Linked DNA regions of Homo sapiens: region 1 is linked to region 2. Evidence: fine-mapped expression QTL. A gene starts in region 2. The other region holds a variant in brackets. All regions are shown on one strand. Distances are from middle to middle. Region 1 holds the start of SNORA7B (small nucleolar RNA, H/ACA box 7B). Region 2 holds the start of EFCAB12 (EF-hand calcium binding domain 12).

Evidence for each region.
Region 1: its variant is fine-mapped to the expression of EFCAB12 in whole blood (TOPMed, PIP 0.96).

The regions. Positions count from the first base shown.
Region 1 is chr3:129,388,434-129,398,208 of GRCh38, forward strand. It overlaps SNORA7B (small nucleolar RNA, H/ACA box 7B), which reads right to left and starts at 8,915; the gene lies at 8,777-8,915. It also overlaps the pseudogene RPL32P3. RefSeq lists enhancers at 1-1,180, 6,283-6,979. The variant C/T (reference allele first, on the strand shown) is at 4,890.
Region 2 is chr3:129,423,349-129,433,123 of GRCh38, forward strand. EFCAB12 (EF-hand calcium binding domain 12) reads right to left here and starts at 5,288. Exons shown (of 9, transcript NM_207307.3): 1 at 5,092-5,288. The coding sequence starts at 5,140. It overlaps MBD4 (methyl-CpG binding domain 4, DNA glycosylase), which reads right to left. Exons shown (of 8, transcript NM_001276270.2): 6 at 9,750-9,775; 7 at 9,155-9,258; 8 at 7,599-8,230. The coding sequence ends at 8,153. RefSeq lists an enhancer at 1,193-1,242 and a silencer at 5,425-5,474.

The DNA of each region.
Region 1 (9,775 bases), 35 kb before region 2:
TTCCTCTTTATCCTCAGCTCTGCTGAGAGAGAGAGAGAGAGAGAGAGAGAGAGAGAGAGAGAGAGAGAGTGTGTGTGTGTGTGTGTGTGTGTTGGGGACAATCACTTGCTTCAGAAGACAGTATTGTGTGATACAAGGAATATCTGGAGTCAGACAGAACTGTGTCCAAATTCCAGCTCTGTCTGACCCTGACCTGTTCCTCTTCTTGGTCTCAGCGTCCTTCACTCTAACACTTGGGTAGTGAGACCTACCCTGAGGGTCACTGAGAGGAATAAAGGGGCCATGTGTGTATAAAGTATATACCCAGAACCTAGTGGATGTTCAGCACGGGATTTCTTACCTTCTCTTTAGAAGTAGGGACATCGTAAGACTTGTCATCCTATTTTATTGGTCTCCCTCTTGGGCAGAAACCCTAAACATTCTGCTCTGTCATCCCCATGAGCCACAACTCTGCCAAACGGGGCCTGCGGATTTGGGAGATCTTGGGAGCTTAGGGGTCATGGATGAGTCAGAGCACACACTATTCAAACTATTCCGTCATAGCTTTGGAATACACAGGAAAGCAACCCTGAGGAATTTCCATTAAACAAACAAAGGTTTGCATCTTTTTTTGATCTTTGCTTGTCTGGTAAAAGCCTGCTTTTGTTATCAAGCCTTCCCAGCGGGAACCTAGGGGAGAGAGACAACAGCCAGGAGCCAAGCCCAGGTTCCAGTAGGAAGGCCCAGGGGCCTCACTTGAAATAGCCACATCTAACCTTTGTAAAGGCTGCTTTCTGCCCATGGCTGCAGAGGCCATTTCCTTTGCTTCTAATTTTTCCAGGAGAGGAAGAAGCGGGGAGAGACCAACAATGACCTGTTTCTGGCAGATGTGTTTTCCTACCAGGGAAGCTCCATGAGGCTGCCAAACTGTACAAGAGGAGTGGGCACGAGAACCTTGCACATGAAATGTGTTGGAAGAAAAGCTGAGTGTTGGGAGAGAAGCTGAGGCAGGGCTTGCATGTTTGCTAGACTTGCTGCTCCTTGCTTCTAGCATTCCCATGTTCTCAAGTAGCCATATGTTTCTCATTCACTTGATACACCGTTTCCTTTCAACCCCCACATCCTCACCACCTGTTTGTTGCAGCCTCCACACTTGTGATAGCCCCCTGGTCCCATTTTGTCTCTCAAACTGTCTTTCTCATTCCTTGGACTCCACTGGACTTCGTCGCCCCCATGACCTGCTGTTGGGTCTGATCACCCCAAAAGAAATGAGGTTTGAGTATGTTAGAGTATGCCAAGGTAACCCACCCTGTCCCAGGCCCATGCTCTGGCTTGGAGCCCACTGGTGATCTCACCCACGGTGTCCAGGTTGTTTTCCCTAAGACTGGTGCAGACAAAAACTAGCAATGGTCTCAGACAGGATGTGGGGAAACTGGTAAACAAAGGACCCATCTACAGCCACTGGTTGAAACTCACCTAAAACTGACCTTTAAGGCTGACACCAAAGGGGCAGAGTATGGCAGTTCAGACCTTCATCAGTGACAGAGCTGGATGGCTGTGGGTCTACACCAGCACAATCCCTTCATTGAGTTGAGGGCTCAGGGCTTCAGGGCTGTCCCCCACAAATCCTCTCAATCCTTGTCAGGAGCCGCCAAGAATCGGTGTCTTCAGGAAGGAGCCGGTCCTGCCGATCATACAGGACGACATGGTGCCTGCCAGCCAAGGTTCCCATAGCACCTGCTGATTGTCCTGGACTTCTCACTGGGCTTCTGGGAAGTCAGGCAGAGCCTCCGCCCTCCCATGTTAGCGCAGCATGCCTCACGCCTGCCGGCTGCAGAGTGGCTACCATGTGGTTGCAGTGGGTGATGGCAGAGATTCCCTTTTGCATTGGGACGGCCCCCATGAACCTTACTCCCCAGCAGAGCTGGGCCTTTTAAGGCAGGTGTAGGAGAGGAGCTTCCTGGACCAGGCTCCTGATGGCTTCTGTGGGAAGGAGTTGCACTAAGGAGCCCAGAGCAGTCAAGACATTTGCAGTTCAGTCTAAGCAAGGTTCAAAGAGGCTTGGGTACATTGGGCAATGAGGGTCTTCCTTCCATCAAGGGGTTTTGTTAACCTGCCTTTTCTGGGAGTGTCAAAAGTGGCTCTCAGTGTGTTATGAAGGGACTCATCGGCCATAACCTATTAGTGGGCTACTAATGGTAATTCTCCAGCTCACAAGTTCAAGATAGAAAATCTTCCCCACTTTTTTCTGATTTTCCAGATGGCTGTGCTCTTCCACCATCTATTCGACCCTGGAGCTGAAGGTGTGTTTGGTGGCCTGTGATGTTGCCCAGGACTTGTTGTTCATCAGGACTTGGACGAGCTCCTGGGCCCCAGCCTGTCTTTTCACCTTAGTGATTTCTTCACTCCGTACCTGAGACCCAGGGTGTTCAGGCTCCCTCTACTTTTTCCTCGTCACCTTTCCTACCCTCCCTCAGGCCCCACCACAGACACCTAGAAGATTTCATACCACATTCATACTGAGATCACCAGAGTCAGTGCATCTCTGCTTCCGGGGATAACAAAATTTTAACTCAGGATGAACTCTTGAGGGATCAAGACCCTAGAGGTAGAATTTAGGCTTAGGAACCCCTGACGCCTCCAAGGAGACAGCTGTACTGCAGTCTGAATTTGAGAAATGTGTACATACACATTATGTGGGGGGTGGGGGAGATCTAGTGCTGATTAACATGGCATGTTTTTGTTTACTTGAAAATTGCTTCTCAAGATTTAATCTAGTTTTCAGAAAATTTTTAAATTTACATTCTCATGTACAAATAAATTGTATGCTTTCCGGATAAGTGACATGTTTATATGGTGATAAAGGGAATTATAATGCTCTTAACTCTTATGTAGTATGTTCTCATCAAAATCACCAAGCATGAGAACACTGTTTAGTCTCATTCATCACTCAGCACAGCCTCTTTCTGTCCACTTCAGGGCCAAGTCTTTGCCATGGCCCCACATAACGTGTAAATTAGCTTCAGGGATCAAAAATCTTTGAAAACCCAGTTTGCTGAGCCTTGAAGGAAGCCTTTAGACCCAGCTTCAATGAAGTCACAGCTCCCTGAGGGTCCTGGTGGACTGGAGGCGGCCTCCCAAGCCTGGGAGCTGTGTGCCTGGATGGTCTCACTGGGGTGATGACCCAAGCTCATGGCTCCCTCTCAACCTCTAACCCTTCTTAACACAGTCACCCCTGGTCCCCTGAGCACTCACTGAAGTCCCTTTGAAGGACATTTCTAGTCTCCTAAGATGCCTGTTTCCTCCAGCTGCCACCCTCATTTCACCAGCCAGGTAGGCAGGTTTTCCAGCTTCGTGCTGGCATAGAGAATCCGTGCCATAGCAGCTGCCAAAAGGAAAGGTGTGTCTGTAAAGGCCCAAACTAGGCGGGGACAGTGGCTGCTTTCCAAGCCCCTTCCCTTTGTCAGCTCCAGGGAGAACCAAAGGCCAGCCAGGGGGCCTGTCTTCTATTGGGTCCCAGCATCAGGGTATACAATGCGCTTTCCTCCCCTTCTTAAAATGTATCATATATTAGGCCGACCTAATACTCTGAAAGCACATTTACTCTGAAAGCAAATGAGGGAAAAAAGCGAGCTAATTGTTCAAGTGGATTTTTAGCATACATTGACTGTACTTTCCTGACACATGAGTGTTAATCATGGGGAAAGGAGTGCTTTTTTTGTTCTCAGTGAGGCTGACACAAAGTACTCTCCACAGGGTACATTATTCCTGAGACAAACCACTTCTTACCAGTAACATAGACCTGGGCTGTAAGTGCTCCCAGTTTCCCTTTTTGAAAAGCTCCACCTTTAAAAGCTGCCTCAACTCTGGCAAACTCCCACGTGTGTATTTTGGGTAACTACCCTGAAAAGAGGTGGTGTTCTGAGGCTGTTTCTCACACATTGTAGGGCCTGCCCAGAGAAGCTGGGCATACCGCTTCAGAGGTATGCTGAGGCCGAAGGAACACAGGCCCTAGGCCTGATCCCTGAGCCTCCAGGACCACAGCCATCTCTTCCTTCTCAGGTCCTCTCCTGAGCACCTTCCCTGCCTCAGATCCCCCCATGGCCTCCTGCTGTCCCACTGTCGGATCAGGTTCTCACCCCTGCAGACCTGACCTCAGCACAGGATCCCTAACCATTCAGCCGAGAAGCAACTAACCAGAGAGAGGTTTGCTTGTTATCTGTTCCAGGAAAGTAACTGGGGCAAAGACAATGTGATGATTCTCTAGTTCAGGGCACAGAATGTTTGCTGGTGACTCAGAGAGGGCATGGAGGGCACGGAGGGCCGGCAAACACTGTAAGTCATTTTGTCTGTGTAAGTTTAGGGGAACCCATGCTCAGCCTCACTCTGAAGCATGTGGTATCACCCATATGATCTGAATAAGATGACAGGTCTCGATATGTGGAACTGTGCACCAGGTTGTCTCATTGCTGTTTAGGAACAGTCCTGTATTTACCAAACTATGTGAGAGAGAGACAGCCTGATCATGAACCCCCGACCCTGCAGACTTCATGTGCAGTGCCCCAAATAGTCTAGAAAGTGTTGTTTAGCCGATGAACAAATGCCCATTTGTGAGATGGGAAGGAAGCACTGGGGGCCAGCGTCCCTGATGCTGTCCCAGGATCCCCCAGGAACACCTGCAGGGCAGCCTGAGATCACTCTTCCCGAGACCTGGGACTCCCCCAACTCAGCCCCTCAGGGCCGGGCCCTGCCTACCTCCTGGTTGCCTGCTTCAGCCATGTGGAGCCCGCCCTTGCTGCTAGAAAACCCTGATGTAACGCTGGCACAGGAAGTTCTGATCCAGAGTGTTTTTGTTTGTTGTGCTTCCTCAGGATTTCTTTGGATCTGGAGACCCCAAAGAAACAAAGATG[C/T]TAATCACCAAACAGGCTGACTGGGCCAGAAATATGAAAGAGCCCAAAGTCACCGTGGGGATGTAAATCTCAGCAGGAGAGCACGTCAAGGCCATTGAGATCTGTGGTGACTATGTCAGGGTTGACATGAAAGTTTCCGTCTGTGCCCTGAGCATTTGGCAGCATGTCATCACATGCCACCTCTTGGCTTTGACTGACAAGGAAACAAATCGTGCGTCTCTAAATATTTAAAGCAAATGTGATAGCGATTGGGTTCCTTGGGAGACACAGAGACTGCCTGTGTTTAGCACTCAGAGCAGGCCCCACACTCACCTCTTCCTTTAGAGGGCAGTCATTGAGGAATTCTCACGCCTTGGCCTCCACTTTTCTGTGTGAATTCCTGCACCCGTGGTATAAAGAGCGCTGGGCCACTTCCTGGCTGCTGAGTCTTGGGCTGGGTGCTTCACCTTCACCCCAGACATTATTCTTCTCATCTGCAAGATGGAAATAATCATGCCCACCTCTTAGGGACCCAAGTGACAGGGCTTGGGTATTTCGGCAGGCCTTTATCCTGCTTCCCCATGGCATGGAGCTCCTGGGCCTGGCACCCCTTCCCTGCCTGCCCACCCGGGTGGCCTTTCCTCTTGGCAGCCAGGCCCCAGGGGCCCGAAGCCAGAGTCCAGGGGGAGGAGGACACGTGCCTGCCCCGGCCCCTCGGGAGTCCGTGGCTGTTTTGTAGGAGTTGGTGCCCTTGTGCTACCGCTGCTCCACCAACAACCCGCTGCTCAACAACCTGGGCAACGTCTGCATCAACTGCCGCCAGCCCTTCATCTTCTCCGCCTCTTCCTACGGTGAGTCCCTGCATCCTGAGCATGTGGGTGGGACAGCCTGTGGACGGCTAGGCTCACTCCACTGCTCTCTGGCCTCAGGACATTGGGCAAGGGCCAAAGGCCTCTGAATGTCCCTGTTTATGAAATGAGGACACTCTGACACCCACCTACCTGACACAAGGAGTCACTGTCGGTGTTCCCAGAGATAGGACCCACTGCTGCCCAAAGCTGAAGCACCCACTCTGGGAACCTGGCGCAGGGCTTTACATAACCAAATGCCCCAGGAAGAGAGTCCGATGGCTTTGCATTCAGACCAGGAGGCTGAGATAGGTTTTCAAGGCCCAGCTCCTTTGATGTTGACAGAGGATCAGAAGCCCCTTCCCAGGAGCTGAGCAGAGGCCACACACACACAGAGACTGCCCCTGCACACACACACACACACACACACAGAGATTGCCCCTGCACATACACACACACACAGAGACTGCCCCTGCACACACACACACACTGCCCCTGCACACACACATACACAGATGGCCCCTACACACAGACTGCCCCTGCACACACACACACACACACACACACACACACACACACAGAGACGGCCCCTGCACACACACACAGACTACCCCTGCACACACACAGAGCTAGCCCCTGCACACACACACACAGAGCTAGCCCCTGCACACACACAGACTGCCCCTGCACACACATACACACACATACACACACAGAGACAGCCCCTGCACACACACACACCGACGGCCCCTGCACCCACACAGACTGCTCTTGCACACACACACACTCACACACATACACAGAGACTGCCCTTGCACACACACACACAGAGACTACCCTTGCGCACACACAGAGACTGCCCCTGTACCCCACACAGACTGCCCCTGCTGCCTCTGCTTGCCTATTTTTTTTTTTTTTGTATTTTTAGTAGAGACGGGGTTTCACCGTGTCAGCCAGGATGGTCTCGATCTCCTGACCTTGTGATCCGCCCACCTCGCCCTCCCAAAAGTGCTGGGATTACAGGCGTGAGCTTGCCTAGTTTTTTAAACCTGCTGTTCTTGTGCAGGCATGGTGGCTCATGTCTGTAATCCCAGCACCTTGGGAGGGCGAAGCAGGAGGATCACTTGAGCCCAGGAGTTCAAGGGTGCAGCAGGCCATCATCATAGCTGTTAATGGCCACTGCATTCTAGCCTGGGCAACAGAGTAGAAACGTCTCTAAAAACAAACCGTAAACACTACCTAGCACTAATGTCCTGTGACCCCTCCTTGCACTCTCCACCTTTGTGTAAAGTACTCTCTGTCCACAAAGTCTTCCTCTTATTCTCCCTCTAGTTCACATTTGGTTGTAAAGCCTCCGTACCCCTGAAAATACCCCTTACCAAAGCATAAAGGGCCTCTTAAAGTCTGAGGCCTATGTTTGATCTTCCCCAAATTCCCTCATAAATAAAGCAACATTCTGGAAACAACAGCCAAAAGATATTATATTGAAAACCGGTGATTACTGCTGTGTTCACTGTGTCAAGCAAAGTCCATTTTTCTGGTCTTGGGACTCCACAGCTATGAGGACAAAAGTCTCTCCCCTCTCCAACAAAGGAAACACACTGAACTCCCCAAGAAGCATTCTCTTTTTCCTTTTGGGATGGAGTTTCACTGTCGCCCTAGGCTGGAGTGCAGTGGCGCGATCGTAGCTCACTGCAACCTCTCCTGCTGGTTCTCCCACCTCAGCCTCCTGAGTAGCTGAGATTACAGGCGTGTACCACCACGCCCAGCTAATTTTGTCTTTTTAGTAGAGATGGGGTTTCGTCAAGTTGGCCAGGCTGGTCTCGAACTCCTGACCTCAGGTGATCTGCCCACCTCGGCCTCCCAAAGTGCTGGGATTACAGGCATGAGCCACCACACCTGGCCCCAAACAAGCATTCTCTAAACTCCTGTAAGGAATGACTTCACATTCCCTCAGAGAATGTCAGCTTCCCAAAATGCATCCCAAGAGTTTCCAGAGTTCCTGCCAGAAGTGCCCGCACAGATGCAAACTTCAGACCCCTGAAACCAGAGATGGACCCAACTCACTTGTTGCATATCAGCAGCACTCTCAGCTCCTTGACATTGTGGACCAGGAACTTCCGGAAGCCACTGGGCAGCACGTGCTTTCTGGTTTTTTTTTTTTTTTTTTTTTTTTGCTCCTATAACCAATGCTGGGCATCATATCAAGACCTGGCCCTTGAACCTTCTATGAACCCTGTTGTCAATGCCTCTGGGTTTCCACCAGTTACGCTGAAGGAAATAATACACAGGTGGGTTAGCATCTGTGCAGACTGCCAACTGTTCCATAGGGGAGGGAAAAAAGGACCAAATGAAAAGGAAGTATGCCACACAGTAGTTGCCTTTGGTAATAGGACTTCACTATTTCCTTACATGCTTTTTTGGTGGGAAAAACCAGGAGCTCGTGGCTTTTGCCACTAGGAAGGCAGGCACCCCCGCCATTCTCACTCCCAAGAAATGGAGACACCAATGGGATGCGAGGGGACTGTGTAGATATTGAGATGGCGAGCACAGGTGCAGACACTGCTCTCAGCACCTCTGAGTTTTCTTGTCTATAAAATAGGGATCCTGCTGTCATAAGGCAACCCAAAATACATGATACAAATGCAAAGCCCTCCAAACATATCAAAATGGCCAAGTGTCCCTTTTCATTAAAGTTTCACTTCACACATCAAGAGACGTAAGTACCAGCACTAGGGCACACTGGGGGAGACCTGTATTTCCACAGAAAGCTCTTCCACAAACCAGTTCATCGGTCAAAGGTAATCCTGACTAGGTGATGTCAGAACTGGCAGCCTGTTGGAAACTCCTTTCTTCACCCCACACCCATTTCCATCCCAGGACCACACACCTTGATTTTGACATATCGGTCTGACTGGTGCCGGATGAATTTCTTGGTTCTCTTTTTGACGATCTTGGGCTTCACAAGGGATCTGAGGGCAGCCATGATGCCTTTTGGGGAAGAAGTAGCCCCAGGTGAGGAAGAATCCTGGAAGGAGGCTTTCCCGCCCAGGGACTGAACACTGTCGCAGAGTGTCTTCCAATCACCAGCTACGGAGCAAGCTGGGAATGGAATGGGTGCCTCTGCCAGGCTTGCTTTCCCTCCCTTTCCGAAGCTGGCAGAATACTAGGCAGTCTCCAGATGCGATCCCAGGAGGTCAAGGGTCACCTCACCCACTCAGAGCCCAAAGAATGCCAACAGCTGAGCAAATCAAAACTGACCCCAAGACACTCTCAATTTGCAAGGGGCAGCAAATCCCACCCTGCCAGTGTCTGAACCCCCAGATGGTCCTTCCGGTAGTACTGGCCTTGACCATCTACTTGAACTGGAGTCTCAGTTTCCTCACCTGTAAAATGGAGACGACATTGTGTGCTGAATGCCTGCAGTACCTGTCACAGGGTAAATGTTCAATAAAGAAAACCTTCTAATTCCCTAGGTAGCAGCTGCGCTACCACACCCCCAACACACACAAAACCATCATATCCCTCTAAGGATGCCTCAAACCTGGAGATCTTCCATTATCAACTCACAACTTCCTCAGTGTGGTCTTCTGAGCCATTCATTTATTTCCTACAGCAGCACCCCTTCTGTTCTCTTTGCAGCCATCAGTTGGCACAGAGTGGGTACTCAATGAACCACGTATTCAAAACAACTTTGCCTTCTGGCCCATGATATCCTTGAAGGCAAGGGGGAAGTTTCATCTTTATATTCCCAGAGCTCCTGACGATCAAAATCTCTGTTAACAACTGAGTGAGCTGACCTGCACCCCATCTTTTTTTTTTTTTTTTTTTTTTTTTTTTTGCAGTCCCACCACAGCAGCCCTAGGGTCACAGGCTAGAAGGAAAGGAACGTGGGGTCATGGCAATGAATGAATGCACGTGGGCCAACATCAGTAAGCACGGTATAAACCGAAAAATAAATTCTAAGCCCCCCACCCAACTGAATGGACTCCTGCTCTTGGCCAAGGGCATTCCAAAGTTAACCTGAAAAACTAGTTCAAGCCATAATGGGAATGTGGG
Region 2 (9,775 bases):
AGGCATGGTAGCTTATGCCTGTAATCCAAGCACTTTGGGAGGCTGAGGTGGGAGGATTGCTTGAGCCCAGGAGTTCAAGGCCAGCCTGGGCAAAATAGTGAGACCTCATCTATACAAAAAAATTTAAAAACTAGCCGGGCATGGTGGTGCACGCCTGTAGTCGCAGCTCCTCAGGAGGCTGAGGTGGGAGGATCACTTGAGCCTGGGAGGTCAAGGCTACAGTGAGCTGAGATTACCCGCATTGTAATCCAGCCTGGGCAACAGAGACCCTTTTTCAAAAAAATTTAAAAAAATCAGAAGGGATATAACAATCTTATTGGAAATACTGTCACTGTCATTTTCCTCCTAAAACCCAAACTCCCTTGCTTAAAACCTGTCCATGGCTCCTAACTGCCTCTAGAGTAAAGTTCAAGCTCCTTAACCTGGCCCCACCTGGTCCTCTCACCCCTACCAGCCTCTCCGATTTCTCTGGCTCCTTCTGCCTTCCCTTACGTTTGTATCCAAACAGATCTGCCCCACCAACACACACAAGCCATGCTGTTTCCTCCCTGTGACATGCTCTTCTCCCTCCCTGCTTCACTTCTTGATCCCTGACTCACCCTTTGAGACTCAGCTCAGGCATCCCGGCCCCTTGAAGCCCTCCCACTCCCCTTCTCATGGGCCCTCTGGGTCCCATAGCCCCCACACTTAGTCCCATCATAAGCATTTACCATATTTTTCTGAAATGAAGATACTTTCTGCATCTTTCTTTCCCAACAGCCTGTGAGTTTCCCAGTGACCAGGACTGTGTCTTAGTTCCCCTGTGTCCTCGGTGCCCAGCCTGGCCCAAAGTGGACATTCAGTACATTTGTTAAGTCTCTTTACAAGGCCCATGTGTTCCTTTCAGAGTCAGCAAATAAGAAAAGTAAACATCATGGTATGGTTTGCATCTGTGTCCTTGCCCAAATCTCATGTTAAATTATAATCCCCATTGTTGGAGGAGGGGTCTAGTGGGAGGTGATTGGATCATGGGAGAGGACGTCCCCCTTGCTGTTCTCATGAGAGCGAGTGCTCACAAGATCTGGTTGTTCAAAAGCATAGCACCTCCCCCTGCTCTCACTTCCTCCTTCTTGGGTTATGTAAGATGTGCCTGTCTTTGCCTTCTGCCATGATTGTAAGTTTCCTGAGGCCTCCCCAGCCATGTTTCCTGTACAGCCTGAGGAACTGTGAGTCAATTAAACCTCATCTCTTTATAAATTACCTAGTCTCAGGTAGTTCTTTATAGCAATGCTAGAACAGATATTACACATCAATAGGGATGGAAGCGAACACTTCTAAACAACACATGTATCATTACTTTGACCACAAGAAAGTTCATTCCCAGCAGGGGATGACTGAGAATGTAGTCATTCATCAAATCAGTATTTATTGAGAATCCCCCAGGGCTTGGTGCTGAACCAGGTGCAGATTAAACTAGGCTGGGCACCTACCGTGGTTCACCTGTTCTCAGTCCACCCAATGGAACAAGGTGGGGCACCCAGAGGGTAACAAGATGTTCTCAGTTGGGGGAGAAATGCTGACTGTGGGACCTGGGAGGGCATCAAGGAAGAGGTGTCTTTGATGTGGACCTTCAAGAATGGTCTGGCTTCATGGGGTGGAGGGGCAGGGATGGGGAAAGGTCAGGAGTGGGATTTGGGGATTTTAGGGTCACCAGACAGTTCCACATGTTGGAAGCCCACTGTGTGTAAAGGAGGAGGTTAGTGGGAAATAAGGTTGGCGTCATCTCAAATGCCAGGCTAAGAGATTGAAACTTTACCCTGCAGGCCACGGGAACACAAAACCTGCTCCCCACAGGTCTTGCTGCTCCCATTTGGGTCCTCCCTAGACCCCCAATCCATGTTCTGCCCTCAGCCAGGAGAGCCTTACAAATGTAAATTCACAGTCTGTCCCTTCCCCATTTGAAACCATTCAATGGATTCTTAGTGCTCTTTGAATAAATACCCGCCTCCTTCTGTGGCCTACAAAGCTGCCTTCACTGGCCCTGCTCCCCACTCTTCCCTTGTCACCTCCCAGCCCCCGCCCCCTCACTCATGTGGTCCCAGCTGCTGTCCTCCTTTCTGTTGTCTGAGGTGCCTTGTTCCTTCCTGGCTCTGGGTTTTCAGTTTTTGCATTTGCTGTGCCCTCTGAAGAGCACTGCATTCCCCAGGGCTTCCCCTGGCCGAGTCATTCTCCTCACAGTTCTAAACCTGCACCAGCCCCTGACCCCACTTTCCAAGGGTGCCTGCCCACCAAACCTCCTCAGGGAGCTTCATTCTAGTGCTCTTTGGAGTCCTGTGTCCATTGACAGAAAGGGAAATGGGCTCTTATAATAAAAGAGGCTGTCATTGTGTAGTTATGGGTAGAGACTATGTGACAATGTTCCTAGGAAATTGGCAAGGAAAGCTCTCAGACGCCAGCTAGTTCAATCACCTGCCCAGGTCAGGGACACTCTCCTCAATGCCACTGGCAGACTTTGCCTCTGTTTATACATCTCCTGTGACGTGGAACTTTCTACTTAACATGGTGGACACTAAACTCTGACTGCTAGAAAATATTTCCTTATATTGACCCAGAATTTGTTTCCCTGGACTTTCTACCCTTTGGTTCTAGTCCTCCCCATGGATGTCCCAGAAAACACACTTGTTCTCTCTTTTCTCAGACAGCCTATAGGTGTCTGGAAACAATTCTACTCTTTCTTGAAATTCTCCCTGCTCTTGGCTTGATTCAATCTCTTGCTATGTCCAATTCTACCTCTCCGGCTATTGTTTTTGGGCCCCTCTTTTCCTGATTACTCCTTAAAGGTTGTTGCTTCCAGGCTTATACCCAGGGTCTCTTCTCTTTTTAAATAATCCCTTCCATTCTCATGTTTCTATGACCTTCTGTATGCTGGGGACATCCATACCAATATTTTTGACTTGGAATTAGCTCCAAGTTTATACCTCCAGTTGTTCCTAAAACATCTCCACTTGGATGGCTTACAGGGTTTTTTTTTGTTTTTTTTTTTTTTTTTTTTTTTGAGACGGACTCTTGCTCTGTTTCCCAGGCTAAAGTGCAGTGGCACGATCTCGGCTCTCTGCAAGCTCTGCCTCCCGGGTTCACGCCATTCTCCTGCCTCAGCCTCCCGAGTACCTGGGACTACAGGTGTCTGCCACCACGACCGGCTAATTTTTTGTATTTTTAGTAGAGATGGGGTTTCACTGTGTTAGCCAGGATGGTCTCGATCTCCTGACCTGGTGATCCGCCCACCTCAGCCTCCCAAAGTGCTAGGATTACAGGCGTGAGCCACGGCGCCCGGCCGGGGATCTTTTTTTATTATTTATTTTTAATTGAGACAGGGTCTTGCTCTGTTCCCCAAGCTGGAGTACAGTGGCTCAATCATAGCTCACTGCAGCCTTGAACTCCTGGGCTCAAATGATCCTCCCAGCTCAGCCTCCTGAGTAGCTGGGACTACAGGTGCATGCCATTAAGCCTAGCTAACCTTTTTTTTTTTTTTTTTTTTGAGATGGTGTCTTGCTCTGTCACCCAGGCTGGAGTGCAATGGCATGATCTTGGCTCACTGCAAGCTCCACCTCCCTGGTTCATGCCATTCTCCTGCCTCAGCCTCCTGAGTAGCTGTGACTACAGGCGCCTGCCACCATGCCCGGCTAATTTTTTGTATTTTTAGTAGAGACGGGGTTTCATTGTGTTAGCCAGGATGGTCTTGATCTCCTGACCTCGTGATCCACCCACCTCAGCCTCCTAAAGTGCTGGGATTACAGGCGTGAGCCACCCCACCAGGCCTGGCTAACTTTAAAAAACAATTTTGTAGAGATGGGATCTCACTATGTTGCCCAGGCTATTCTCAAACTCCTGGGCTCAAGCAATCCTCCTGCCTCAGCTTCCCATAGTGCTGGGATTACAGGCGTGAGATACTGTGCCCAGCTACTGACAAGGATCTTAAACTCAACCAACCAAGACTGGATTTGTCTTTGTGCCCCTTCCCCCACTAACTGGGTCCTCTGAGTACGTTCTCTTATCTCTGTGGAAGACATCTCCATCTACCAGGTCCCCCAGCTGCCAACTTGAGAACCATCTTTATTTGCCTCTTCTGTGTTTCCTGACCAACCAGCCCCCAAGTCCCGTAGTTCCCTCTAGCCTGGGCCTTCTCCCTCACCTCCCAGCATCTTTAGCTTGGGCATTTGACCAGAGCCCTGACCTGTGTGCCTGGGAAAGGTGGCCAGCCTCTCCAGCTCTCCCTGTTTCTCCACTGGGCATTAATGTGTTCAGTGCTGGAGAAGCGGCATGGAGAAGACCTTCAGTCTTCAAGCTTTATAGCCCCCAGCTCTCATCTCCCCACACCAACATTCTGAGTCTGCCAACTCAGTCTCAGGTCTTTTCTGACTGCTCCCAATCCAGTCCTGCCACTCCCAGTGGCCTCTCCATCTCCTGGCTTGCAGTATCTTTTATGATCTTGTCCCTTCTGACCTCTCTCACCTCATTTCCAGAGACACCAGACCTCTTGGGTCATGCTGTTTCCTTGCCCGAAATGCTTTTCCTTCCCCTTTTGGCTTGGAGAACTCCTTTTTATCCTTTAAGCTCCAGTGTAAAGATCTTTTCCAAAAGCTTGGAACTGTTCCTCCCCATCCCATACCCTCAGCACACCTTTTACTCCTGGGTGTCATCCCTGGGCCCGGCATTTACCCCTTCTTATTCTGTAATTATCCATTTATCTCTGTCCTTTACCCGTGAAGCTGCATTGCTTTGCCAAGAACTTGGTCCCCAGCACATTACTGCCAAAACCTTGAAGACTGACGTCTTCTCCATGCCTCTCCTCCAGTACTGAATACATTAATGTCCTGCAGAGAAACAGGGCGAGCTGGAGGGCTCCCGTCACATGGGTCGGGCCTCTGGTTCCTCCAACTAGGCTCAGATAGAAATCTCAGAAATGTACATGACCTGCCCCCGACTCCATGGCAACCCTTCACCCAGAGGGGGTCGGCACAATATCTGTGGCTGAGTTTTTGCCCTCACCCCACTTTCACGCGTCCTTAGGGCGCTGAGCGCTCCCTGCAGACGCTTCTTCCCGGGGCTTACCGAGCAGCGACAAGAACAGACTGTGGTACGCTTCATAGTCGTCGTCCATGGTCGTGGTGCTGGGAGGGGGTGCTGAAGGGCGTGTGTGAATGTGTGTCGATGTGGGCTTGCTTGCGTAGGGGTACCGGGGTATCAGATAAACCGTAACTCCAAGTCGTGCGAAAGGCGCTCAGCTCAGACTGCAGAAGCAACCTGTTGCCGTGGCTACGGACGCCCCGCGCCAATTGGCTGAGCGCTGTCACGTGTTAAGAGCGAGCCCGCCCTGCCGAGCGCCTGCTGGCCCCACCTCGTTTTCGTCCAATTCTGGGAGGGGCAGCGAGCAAATCCACGCCCCGCCCAGTTCTGGGCTTGGTGAAAGGCGGGATTTCTTTGTTCGGCCCAGTAGTCCCTGAATCCAGTGTAGAAAGTCTCCGGTTTTCCCGTGAAATGTGGGATCTTCCGCAGGTCTCCATATCTCTAGGCCTCAGTTTTCTCATAGGAAAAATAGGCCCTGCCTCCTCCAGAGGGTTAGGAAGAACCAAAGTGAGCTGTGGCCAGATAGAGGTGTTGGGTATGTTCTGCCCCGCTTATGGCAGGGTGCCATGGTTTGGAGTTACAGAACCTGAGGACCAGAGAATAATAATAAACCCTTGAAATGTGCATCAACTGATAAGCAAAATGAGGTATATCCATAGGATGGCCATAAGAAGGAATGAAGTACATGCTACAATATGGATAAACCTTCAAAACAGTATGCTAAGCAAGAAGCTAGACACAAAAGGCCACGTGCTGTATGATTCCATTTATGTGAAATGTTCAGCATAGACGAACCCACAGACACGGAAAGTAGATGAATGGTTGCTAGGGGATGGGGTGAGTAATTGAAGTGACTGCTAACAGGTGGAGAGATTCTTTTTGGAGTGGAAAAAAGAAATGGAAACTTCTGGAATTAGTGATGATGGCTGCACACTGTAAATGTACTAAACCACTGAACTGTACACTTTAAAATGGTTAAATGGTGGCTTTTAGCTCAATTTTTAAAAAGTTAAAGAGAAACACCTAAGCCCTTATTCCTTTGCTGAGACAAGCTATCTTTGTGACGCTTGCAAACAGATTGTTGCCATGGGCCACATTCACACAGCACTCTTGCAAGCCAGGTACCATTTTAGCACTACATGTCTGAACTTCATAATTACCATCATTGTGTGAGGTAGACACCACTATCCCATTTTTAAAAGACAAGTTAACAGGTACAGAGGTCAGGCAACCTCACCTGCAAGAAACAGGAAAAGCCAGGCCTAGAGCCTGAGCAACCTGGCTGTGTCCTGAGCTCCCCTGGTGCAGAGCTCGCCTCCTGCATTCACACGGGCCCACACTCCCCATGGAGATGCTGGGGGAAGGTATGTGACCACCAGCCCTACCACAAAGCCACACCTGATGCCCTGAGCTTGGTGAGCTCGCCCCACCCTCCAGGCCCAGCTGGGCCCAAGGTTTCAGAGGCCCCTCTCCACCCTCTTTGGGTGTCTTGTCCCTACTCCTTACCGCTTTTGTTCCCTTCCATTATTAGGTGCCCTTCTTTCTCTCTGTGAGGGTCTGTACAGAACTTGTTTATCTTTGTGCCCCTCCCCACCACAGGGCTTTACACTTTGTGAATGCTACTTGGATGTTTGTTAAATGAAAATGTGATGGTAAACTATAAAGTGGGTTTGCCTTGGGGAGAGGGAGGTGTGGCCAGTTTTCCTGTTCTCTGGTCAAAATCTATCCTTCTAAAAACTGACACTCACTAAAGTGGAAACAACCAACTACCTCTGCATCACACTGCAGCCTGATTCGGTTCACACTGCCCTACAACAAAGGCAGTTTCCTGAACAACTGATTTATTTTTCATTTATTCAATCAATTTAATTTTCAAATTATACCTTAAAATGGTAGTTGGTAATTAAGACATAGTAACTAGTTTTTTCCCTTGGTTTCTTTCTAATAGTAAATGCTTTGGTATTTGAACTGTAACAATACTTGTAATAAAAATGGCATTAAGACTTATTTTTTTTAAGACAGGGTCTTGCTGTGTCATCCAGGCTGAAGTGCAGTGGTGTGATCATAGCTCACTGCAGCCTCAATCTCCTGGGCTCAAGGGATTCTCCCACCTCAGCCTTCTGAGTAGCTGGGACCACAAGTGTATGTCACCATGCCCAATTAATTTTTAAAATTTTTTGTAGAGACGGGGTCTCATTATGTTGCCCAGTCTGGTTTTGAACTCCTGGGCTCAAGCAATCCTCCTGCCTCAGCCTCCCAAAGTGCTAGGATTACAGGTGTAAGCCACTGTGCCTGGCCAAATGGTATAAACTCCAAATGGAAGATGAGAAATGAGTTTTCACAAAGGGACCAAGGTAAAAGAGTGAGTGAGCTGAAATGGAGCAGCAGGCCCATATTCACATTAGGTTATCAAATGGATACTGGGGTGGAATCTACAATTCCTAAGAGCTAGTGTGGAGCTGTCAACAATACACAATGCCAGAGGAATCTTATTTGTCTTTGGGGTCAGCTTTTATTTTTATTTTTTAAATATATATTTTTTGAGACAGGGTCTCTCTCTGTCATCCAGACTGGAGTGCAGTGGCATGATCATGGCTCACTGAAGCCTTGACCTCCTGGGCCCTCATGAGCTCAAATGATCCTCCTGCCTCAGCCTTCCGAGATTACAGGCATGCACCACCACGCCTAGCCGATAAAAATATTTAGTGGGCCCCTAGCTTTAGCAAGGCTGATAGAAATTTGCTTTGTATTATTGATAGTTTAGAACTATTTTTCATCTTCTGATTATATTTCATCATTGGAAAAGCCGTATTTTTTTTGGATTGTTGTCAAATAATAATTTATTTTAAAAAAATCTCAAAACATGTTCAAACACATTCAGTAGCAAAGATCCACCATTGGCACACACATTAAGAAAGCACACACACTAGGCTTCTAGTTGGGCTAATTAAAATCTCTATGGCTGGAAAGGTGGTTGGTTGTACTTAATTAAGCTTTTTTGAAGTGCAAAGCTATGCATAACAGATGAGCTTGAAAGCTGCAGAGTTTAAGATAGACTTAATTTTTCATGATTTTCCCAAAGCCAGTCATGATATTTATTTAATTTGTGGTCTTCAGGGTGCACCTGGAAGAAACATAAGATACAGAGGCAGAGACCTTAATGTAACTTAGTCAGAAATACATTTTTTAAAATTGGCTTTTTAAATGTTTGCTGGGGGACAGTACATTACGATACCATACCTAAAAGTTATAACCTTTAACCTCCTGGGATTCATGAATATTTTAAGTTATACCTTATATTAAGGTAATCTCACACAATTTACAAGGTACTGTCCAAATTACTACTCAACCATGACTTAGAATGTGGGGTGGCGATAACATGAGTCAAGTATTAATACCTCACTTTCCAGAAGGAGGTTCTAGACCGAGAGGTTAAATGGATTCTCAGGTCACAATGGATTGCTCTGATGAAGCTGGGATAGGACCATGGTCCTTCAGTTCAGGCTTGGCCAGACCTACTGGCTGAATGCATGAGGGTGAGTCTCAAGCTGAGTGGGCAGCATACCAGGCCACCCACCAGCTGCCAGGATGACCACCAGCATGCCACAGGCTGGGCATATTCAACAGGGCTGAAGCAGGACCCAGTCACCACAAACGTAGTCTGAGACCACTAAGAGAAACCCAATATGCATACATTGCAGGCCCAAACCTTCCTGCTTTCCTGTAGTGGTGTACTTTTGACAGGAGGAAAACCACGTCAGGCTTAGAGATAGCACACAAATAGGGAATGACAGGAACAGGGCCAGAGGTGACAAACCACTGGAGATGAGTCAGAGGCCACGCCGCTGGACTGGTCTTTGTGGACTTGGGAGCGCCTACTGATCAAAAACCCCAAAACCCACATGCCACCCGCTTCCCCGCAGCCAGGAACACAATTGTTTGTGACTGTAATAGCATTTGTATCCAATAAATAGTCTTAACCATAATGGTGGACTTATTTTGCCTCAGAGACCAAATGTGCTGAATTATGGATGGGAGTGAGCCTCACCTGCTTCCACTCATTGACACAAAAAATTCGGTAAGAGTCGTTGCCATATTTACCAATCCCATGAAGCTCAATTGGATACTTCCACTGCTTTGTCAGGTATTCATCTGAAGAATACAACATCCCACATTATCAGGTCAGCTTCTAAAGACACCCTCCCAAAATGTGTGGTGATGGGGCAGGATGGAGAGAACAGCAGAAAGGGACAGGAAAGGCTCTTTCCCAGCAACCCCAGTTGTGATTACTCTTCCTTCTGAATTCCTGCAGCACCCATATCATTTGCCAATTCCTAACCACTCTTTTGTGCTGTGCTAACAAGACAGAAGTCATGTCCTTGAGGTCAAGAACTGGGCTTTCTGCTTCACTGACTTCTTCCCCTAATTCTGCCCACATGCCTGACCCAGTGCTGGGCAAAGATTTATTGTTTAGGTCAGTGGGAGACTGTGGTTTGGGGAAAGTGGACTTTTTTAAATGCCTTGGGTGCTTGAGCTGAAAAACCTCCATTAATATAGTATCTGAGAACATTAAAGTTTAAGGTGTGGCTCTCTTAAATAAGCACAATGTATTATGTTTTTCCTTTGGGTGTATAGGAAAATACCTGAGAACTTGACAATGGTTTTTGCC